Homo sapiens: one gene and its partner. The protein of the gene in region 1 purifies or fractionates together with the protein of each later gene. This does not show direct contact. Each region holds a gene or a part of one and is shown in the gene's direction. Other genes may lie near its edges. The genes, in order: OPCML and NCAM1.

Region 1 (3,820 bases):
GGCTGATGTAATAATGGAACCTTGACCTGGTTAGGCCTCAATGCCATTTTATTCTGCAGCTTCTATTTCTTGGTAAAACATGTATCCATCCCAGAGTAATTTTAAGGTTAATGCTGTTGTCGCCTGGTACCTTCCACTGATATCACAAATAGCTTTTCTAGGCAGAATTTCTGGGATGGAAAAGACAGTCACCACGTGGAGACTGAGATGAGCCCACACCCAAGACAGGGCAGAGGGCCCGTGGCCAACTGACTTGTCATGCTAGAGGCACAGTCCGAGGCTCTGGACACCCCTGGTTGGGGTAATTTTGTTGTTCTAGTAGGAGGAGAGAGATAGTCTGGGCTGGTGGCCTTCTTGACCTTGGGTCTGGGGGCTCTGTAGGAAGCAGGAAGCGAATACTGCTAGATATGTGCATCAGAATCACCTAGGAGGAGAGAGGCAGGTTAAAATGTGGAGTCCCTGTCCTCGTCTCAGACGGAAGCATTTTGAACTAGCATCCCAGGTCCTTCTGATTACCTGCAAACCACTCTGTCTGTCACTTAAAACCTGTGACCATGGCCTACAGTATTTGAGTATTTGAGTATTTGAGTCAAAACCTGTCTTCTTCTTGTCTTTTCTCCTCCAGCTTTGAGAAATGGCTCTGTGGCCATGGGGCAGGGTGGAGTAAGGGCAAGAAGATGTTGTCATTGCCAGCAGCCAAGGCTCAGTTCCTGAGGCACAGTGCTGCCCAAGTCCTTCCAGGGGCCAGCACCATGATGCAAGGATTGCTAACTTGGAAGACTTCTTTGCTCAAATTCAGACCATGACTTCCTGTTTGTCCCCTTCTTCTTGGCCCATCCTGTTTGTATCTCCTTCGTCTTGTGACTCTAAGCAGGGGAGTTAGCTGGGAGGGGTCCCCATTTACCCAACCTGGATTGAGCTGTGTCTTCATGCGCTGATCTGTGAGTCCAGGTTCTGGGTACAACTTCATCTCTTGCACCTTAAACAGGCTTTGCCCGTTTAGGGTCAGAAAACCCTGGGCTTGGATAGAAAATCCCCCGAGGTTTAGGATTCTTCCTTCTCTAGCACACACCTTCCTGCTTCTTCCTTCAGGGAAGTCCCCAAATCTTGAGTTTCTGGGCTGGGATGTTTGGCTTTGGGGTAAGGCCTGGGGGCAGGCTCTACAGCCAAGTTTTGATGAATTCCTTTCCTGCTCCTTAGCCTCTCACCAGCCCAGAGCCGGCGAACCTGCTAAGAGTGCCTGATGTGCACAAGGGGTCTAGTGGGGGAATCCACGCGCCAGACTCACTAAGAAAGAGATAGGAACAAGGACAGAGCATCTGGTCATGAGCAAGTTCCCATCGTCCTTTAGCCCATCATGGATTCACGCCATCATGTGGCCCTCAATCCCTTAAAAATGATCGACATGTTAATAAGGTTAGACTGCGTCATCTGCATTCAGCATGGGCCCAGTGGCAATAGCAGGTGCTGAGAAGGAGATAGCATCAGCTGCCTCATGAAGATGGCTTTTTCAGTAGCCTGGAACTGGGCAGCACTACTCAACCTGAGATTAATCAGAGATCCCGACGGGCTTGAGGTTCTCCCATGTTCCCTCGGTCCTGTCTGCCTTTGTGCTTTCTCGAATTCTTAGCACCCTTGGCCACATCTCTGTAACCTAGAAAATTACAGAAGGAGATTCTTTAGACAGCTGGCACTTGCCTGCATTTGTTGTCTAGCAGCTCTGGGCCTGGGTCTCCCATGCCAGCTACTGGGAACTATCTCTGGTGGTTACAGCCTCAAATCTGTGTCAGGGCTGCCTGGGGCTGAGTGCACTTCCCTTTAAGTGGGACTCCACCCAAACCTCTAAGTATGCTGAAAGCTGAGAGTGATCTCTTTGATTAGTGGCTCTTTGAGGCTTATTTGGTTGGTTCAAGGCATTCTCTAAGTCTCAGTTTACCAATCTGTAGAATGGGTTCCAGCCATGTATGAACCTTGTTTCCAACTGCACAGAGTAGCTGAACACCTAGGTTAGATGATAACAAATAAACACTTCTAAATTTTTATTATAAAAAAACTCATCCTGGTCCTCTAGGAATAGGGTAAAGAGAGAAGGCAACTCGCATGTTGGAGAAGGGGAGAGGACATTCCATATTGTTAAAAATGGGAGAAGATAAGGTAGAATCATACTGACCATATATGTATGTCTTTGTCACAGTGATGAAAATTAGTAAAAGACAATCTACTCCTTCATTTATTGAACAAGACTTTATATACGTTCTGATTAAACAATGTATTAAGATATTCTCCTGCCTCAAAAATCATTAATCGAGTAAAACAGGAAATTGTTAAGCTTTTTCTTCTTTTTGACCCCCAATAAAATATGCATTCTGACTTTGAGCTTTTAGGTCTTAGTTTTTCTGCTGTAGAAAACTAAGGCAACAGACATGGCACCTTTGGTCTCTCAAAACGTTGCTTTGTGGTATATTTGGTGGGGTGCTAGATACATGGACTTGTATGTCAGCCTTGGACAGCTGGAACTCCAGGAGCCCCATCTAATAGCCTTTGGCCTATGGGCACTGGCTTTTCTGATGCTGGTCCGCTGGACAGGGACCCCATCAGCCTGCAGCCCTGTTTGCAGATGGACTGTTGCCATCTGCCTGCAGCTGCCTGGGGCTGGAGACAGAGAGATATGGAAGCAAACTGTGATTCCTGTCAGTGAGCTCAAGTGTCAGCCCCCAGATGGTCTGTGGCTGCTGACAAGCCAGGCTGTCAGGAGCAGTGGATGTTAGCACCTCTGATACCGACTGGCACTTTCCAGACAGAGAGGGCCAGGCAGGTGGCTTCACCTTGGGGCGGCTCTGCTCTCCCACTCCTTCTGATCCCAGTCCTCAGTGCAGGGCTAGGTCCTGAGGACATTTGTCCCTCTTGCCTTTTATGCTGTTGGTGGGAGACCCAGACTTACAACTTGCTACTTATCTGCAAAGCCTTGGTTGCCTCTGCATTTTCCCTGAGGGGTGGGGATGGTTCTAACACAGTAGGGCATGGATGTAGTTCCACTTGCTGGATTTATACACCACTCACTTGATACCCCAAGATGGTGGTATTTGTATGGCTCAGGGAAGGATTAAAGGTAGCCCTGAGAAGGGAGCCAAAAGAAATCCAAAACCAGAGAGAAGCTTGAAGATGAATGTGCTTGCTACTGCCTTCCTCTAAGCATGTGAACATACATTCCCTCCTCTCTTCTTCACCACCCCCTTGCCAACCATAGATGCATGCCCCTTCCTGCACACATATACACGCAAGGCACACATGCATTTCCAAGCCAGAGTTTAGCTACTCTCAAAATCACATTCACAGCTCTTTAAGGAAAGCAAGTCTTCCCTCTTGCCTTCTATATCTGCCTTTCCAGAACTCCCAACTCTAGCCCCCAGCCTTGGTGCTCTCCCTGTGGGCACACATGGCAGGAGGCCCACAGGCTGCCTGTGCCAGACACGGCCATACATGTGTGAGTGCTTCTTCCTAGCAACGCAGAGATTCCCTGCACATCCACCCACTCGCCTCTGCGCCCCAGAGCCAGTAAGTAGGTGCTAGAGGCAGGGCTTTTGCTTGTCTCCCATCACGTCCTGTCGCCACCCCCACCCCAGACCTCTTGGTTCGGAGAGGCTGGGGACCATCCTGCAGTCACTAGCCTAACTTAATTAAAAGTTTACAAAATGCTTTGAGAACCCCCTGGGCAATGTGCTGGGTAAGTGCAAAGGATTATCATTATGATGCAGGCGCATTCTCGTTAATGAGCGGAGATGCTGTGCTGAGAGACCCCCGGAAAGGCCAAGATGAATTG
Region 2 (3,820 bases), about 21 Mb from region 1:
TTGGTTGTGAATACTTCAGAGAAAAAAATGGCCTGATTATAAGGTTGAAAACCATCAGCACAAGGGTGGATCTAGGTCTTGTTGGGCCTGAAGGGTATATAATTTTGAGGGCCTTCTTTAAGGAAAATACAAAACTCTTCTTGCTTTTGCGAAGGTTAGTTGAATACATGACCATGAGAACACATTGCCAAGTCCCAGTCCCCCAGAGCCTTGGAAGGAGTCCATGCAGTTGAGGAACCCTGAAAACTTCTGGTCCTTCTTTAGCAACTATCCTTTGGTCCACTTGGACCCACTTGCTTGGGAATATAAACTAATCGTTCCAGTTTATTAAACGTGGACCTCATAGAGGTTGTATGTGTAGTGCTTTGAAGATTAGAATCATATATTGAAGTCAAAGTCATTTTTAGAAAGAAGTATTTCACTTTTATTTGACAGAAGATCTTAAATGAGATCTGAGCTGATTTGATATTTGTCACTGCCGATATTCTTGTAAATTACTAACTAGAAGAAAATAAAGCAATTGCTATTATTATTCAAATGAGTGAGATGTAAGTGCCCGATTGGCAGGGCAAGAAGTAGTTTTGCCAGCTAAAGGCATATGATATTGGAGAGGAGACTGAAGATTTTGTTTTAGCTATCTAAAAGGAGATAAACTGGATATATAATACCAATAATTATATCTTAATCATCACGTTATGGTTTACAAAACACTTTGATATGTGCTTAATCTTCACACTAATTATTTAGTAAATATTGACTGAGTACGTGCTCTGTGCTGGGTGCTGGGAATACAGCGGTGAACTAAACGTACATCGTCCCTGTTTTCATGGAGTTTCCAGTCTAGTAGTACAGAGAAATATAGACATTAAAAAGTAACACATACATTTATAATTACATATTCAGATTCAAGTCTAAGAAAAACCCAGGATGAGAGATTATCAAGGGGGATTGGGTGGTTGGGGAGGTGAAGATGTAACATTTAAACAACTGTGAAATAGGAAGAACAGATGGTATTCTCATTTTAGGGCATGGTTGATTGACTACTTAATTCAACAAACATTGAATTACAACAAACATTCCTGAATTCCTTAACTCAACAAACCTTTGTGAAGTCTGGAGAAGGTCAGATAGCTTCAGGAATCGTGTGGAGTTTCACGTTATGAAGTCCAGGAAAATAATACATCTGCCTTTAGAGCTTACCACCTGGAAGGAGGGGAGACAGACATACTATACTTATAAACAGAGGCATGAAGTAAATGCTGTTGGGCCACAAGAAAGGAAGCAATTAATTCTGCCTGGGACTCCCTCGAGCTGGGCTTGGGGAAGAATTGCTTTCATTAGATGGAGCAGGAAGAAGGGGTGATCTGGGCAGAGCAGACACCCTGAGCAGTGGTTGAGATCTGAATCTGGTTGTACATGGGGAACAGTGTGAGAGTAGTGGGGAGGAGTAGCCAGAGATAAGGAGAAAAAAAAATTCTGCAAGTCCAGATTGTAAGTCTTTAAATGGAAACTGAGACTGAGAAAGGTTAAATGACTTAGGCAGGTGGAGCTGGGACTGCAACTTACGTTCGTTGTCTGAATTTTATCCTTTTCTAAGGCAAGGATAATTTGAATATATATAGCATCTGAATACATGCCAAGCAAACAGGAATTCCTGTGGCTTCTGGACTGAGTCTGACCAAAGTGTGGGAGGAGTGATGGGGAGGAAGGGCACTATTCAGAGCTGTGGTCTGAAGGAACCGTCCTGCCATTCTGCAAGTTGCTGTCGTTCTGAGCCTGTTTCCCCATCTGTAAAATGGGGTTAATGACACTTCCCTTGTGGGTCTTGGTGAGCTGAAATAAAACCACATATGTAAAGCAGATATAAAGTATGTACTCATTATGTGCTTTAAAAAAGTTCCCTGTGGTCAGATATTTTATTTGAAATGTTTGTTTAAAAAGGTGTACAGTACTCTGAATATGATGTGCAAAGTTCTGTGCTAGAGGCTTAGAGGAAAAACAAAATAAATTTAAGGTTACTATACTGACCCTTTCAGGTGGTTGGAGAGGAAGCACTTTTGCTTAGTTCAAGCTGCGAAGAAATCATGAAAGATATTATATCAGTAAGTGCCCGAATGAAGCAGGCAGGTAAAAACTGGGAAAATTGAGAGGCAAAAATCATGTCTATTAGTTTTAATGTCTGGGGGAAAAAAGAGGTATAGAAAAGCTAGAACTGACCTGGACCTCCACAGATATGAAGGTAAATAGGGAGAGAGGGCCTGTTTTCCTATAGGATGAGGTGGATCTGGCCAAAGAATTGCTATTGAAGAGCAGTTAAAGGCTGGAACTTGGGGCAAGCCATATTTAAATCTTAAATGTCAGACAAAGGAGAGGAGTCCTGCTGGAGATGACAGAGAAATTAAAAATATATATATATGTTTAAGAGGATAGTTAACAATAGCAACTGAGCGTGTGCTGCCTCAGGCTCTATGTTTGGGACTAGCTGGGAATTAGCAGAGAGTTAAGTAGGAACAAATTCATATAGTTCATTGCAGCACTAAAAGGGAATTCTGGTTTTATATAGCATCCACTATGGTGGTCGGACAAAATGAAGGGCTAACGAAGGGATTTTTATTGCTGTATGAAACATCAACTAGATGATACTAGGAGAAGGGAGGCTAGTGAAGTCCAATGAAAGTATCTTGCTTAATCAGTAGGAACACCTGTATGCGGGGAAAGGACACCATTGGGCTTAGATTCGAAAGATCTGGGTTCAAGAAGTTGCTCTGCTACTAACTAGCCAAGTGAATTTATATCAGTTATGTAACCTCTTTGAACTGTAACTTCCGCAATCGAATATAAGAACAAAATAAGATAATATATGGGAAATGCATTGTAAATGAAATATTTCACAGCTATACATTTTATTAGTAGACATGTTGCTGAAAAATAAAAATCAAATTTTATGTACTGCTAGAGGTGCTTGTTTGATTAAAGAAACCCAACTATGATATATTTTCTAAAGCAGGAAATTTTGGAAAGATACACTTGTAATGATTTTGGATAAGGATAAAGGGGGCATAGCTGAGATGTTAGAAATAACAAAGCAACCAAGGGTAGATGATAGATCCCAAATGGTAGATGACTGAGAGGGAGAAAGATCTTTGAAGTTACAAACTCGAGGAAATTAAATAATCATGGTACTGTAAATATGATGGAGAAATTAAGAGACAGGTTAGGTTTTAGAAAAAGTTTGGGCCTCCTAATACCTTAACTTGTAGGTCAGTATTTTTCAAACTATGGATGATGAAATCTGTTTAACGGGCTTCCATATATATTAAGAAAGAAGTAAGAGAGGAAGGAAAAAGGGGAGGAAGGAGGGAGAGAAGGAGGGAAGAAGTGGAAAAAGAGAGTGTGTTTTATATAAGGGTAAGTACTGCTTTGAGTACTTCAATTTCTCTCTCTCTCTCTCTCTGTCTCTGTCTCTCTCTCTCTCTCTCTGTGTAATATGTAACTTGGTTGTAATGGAAAATACATTCTTTTGGCTCAGGTCAAAAGAGTTTGGAAGCTACTGTCATCGAAGGAAGAATGTGGGATCAAAGAGAGGGTGAAGCAGTCTGTAGTGGAGTAAGAGTACGTCAGAAGGTATAGAATAGAAACTGAATGGGTTGTGAGGGTGGGGAGGAAGAAATGACAGCAAAGTTACGTATTGAGCATCTAAGCAGTCAGTTAACGACAGGGTGTGAAAAAAACAAAACAAATCAAACTCTAAATGTTATACCTTTTTTTGAAATGGTATCTCACTGTGTTGCCCAGACTGGCCTCAAACTCCTGGGCTCCT

The links.
Region 2: the proteins of OPCML (region 1) and NCAM1 purify together in Homo sapiens (affinity purification with mass spectrometry; one large-scale study listed by BioGRID and IntAct). This does not show direct contact.

The regions. Positions count from the first base shown.
Region 1 is NC_000011.10:133,525,881-133,529,700, reverse strand, and holds part of OPCML (opioid-binding protein/cell adhesion molecule isoform b precursor), read left to right. Parts: intron 1-3,820. UniProt on the Homo sapiens protein: Binds opioids in the presence of acidic lipids; probably involved in cell contact.
Region 2 is NC_000011.10:112,967,792-112,971,611, forward strand, and holds part of NCAM1 (neural cell adhesion molecule 1 isoform 2 precursor), read left to right. Parts: intron 1-3,820.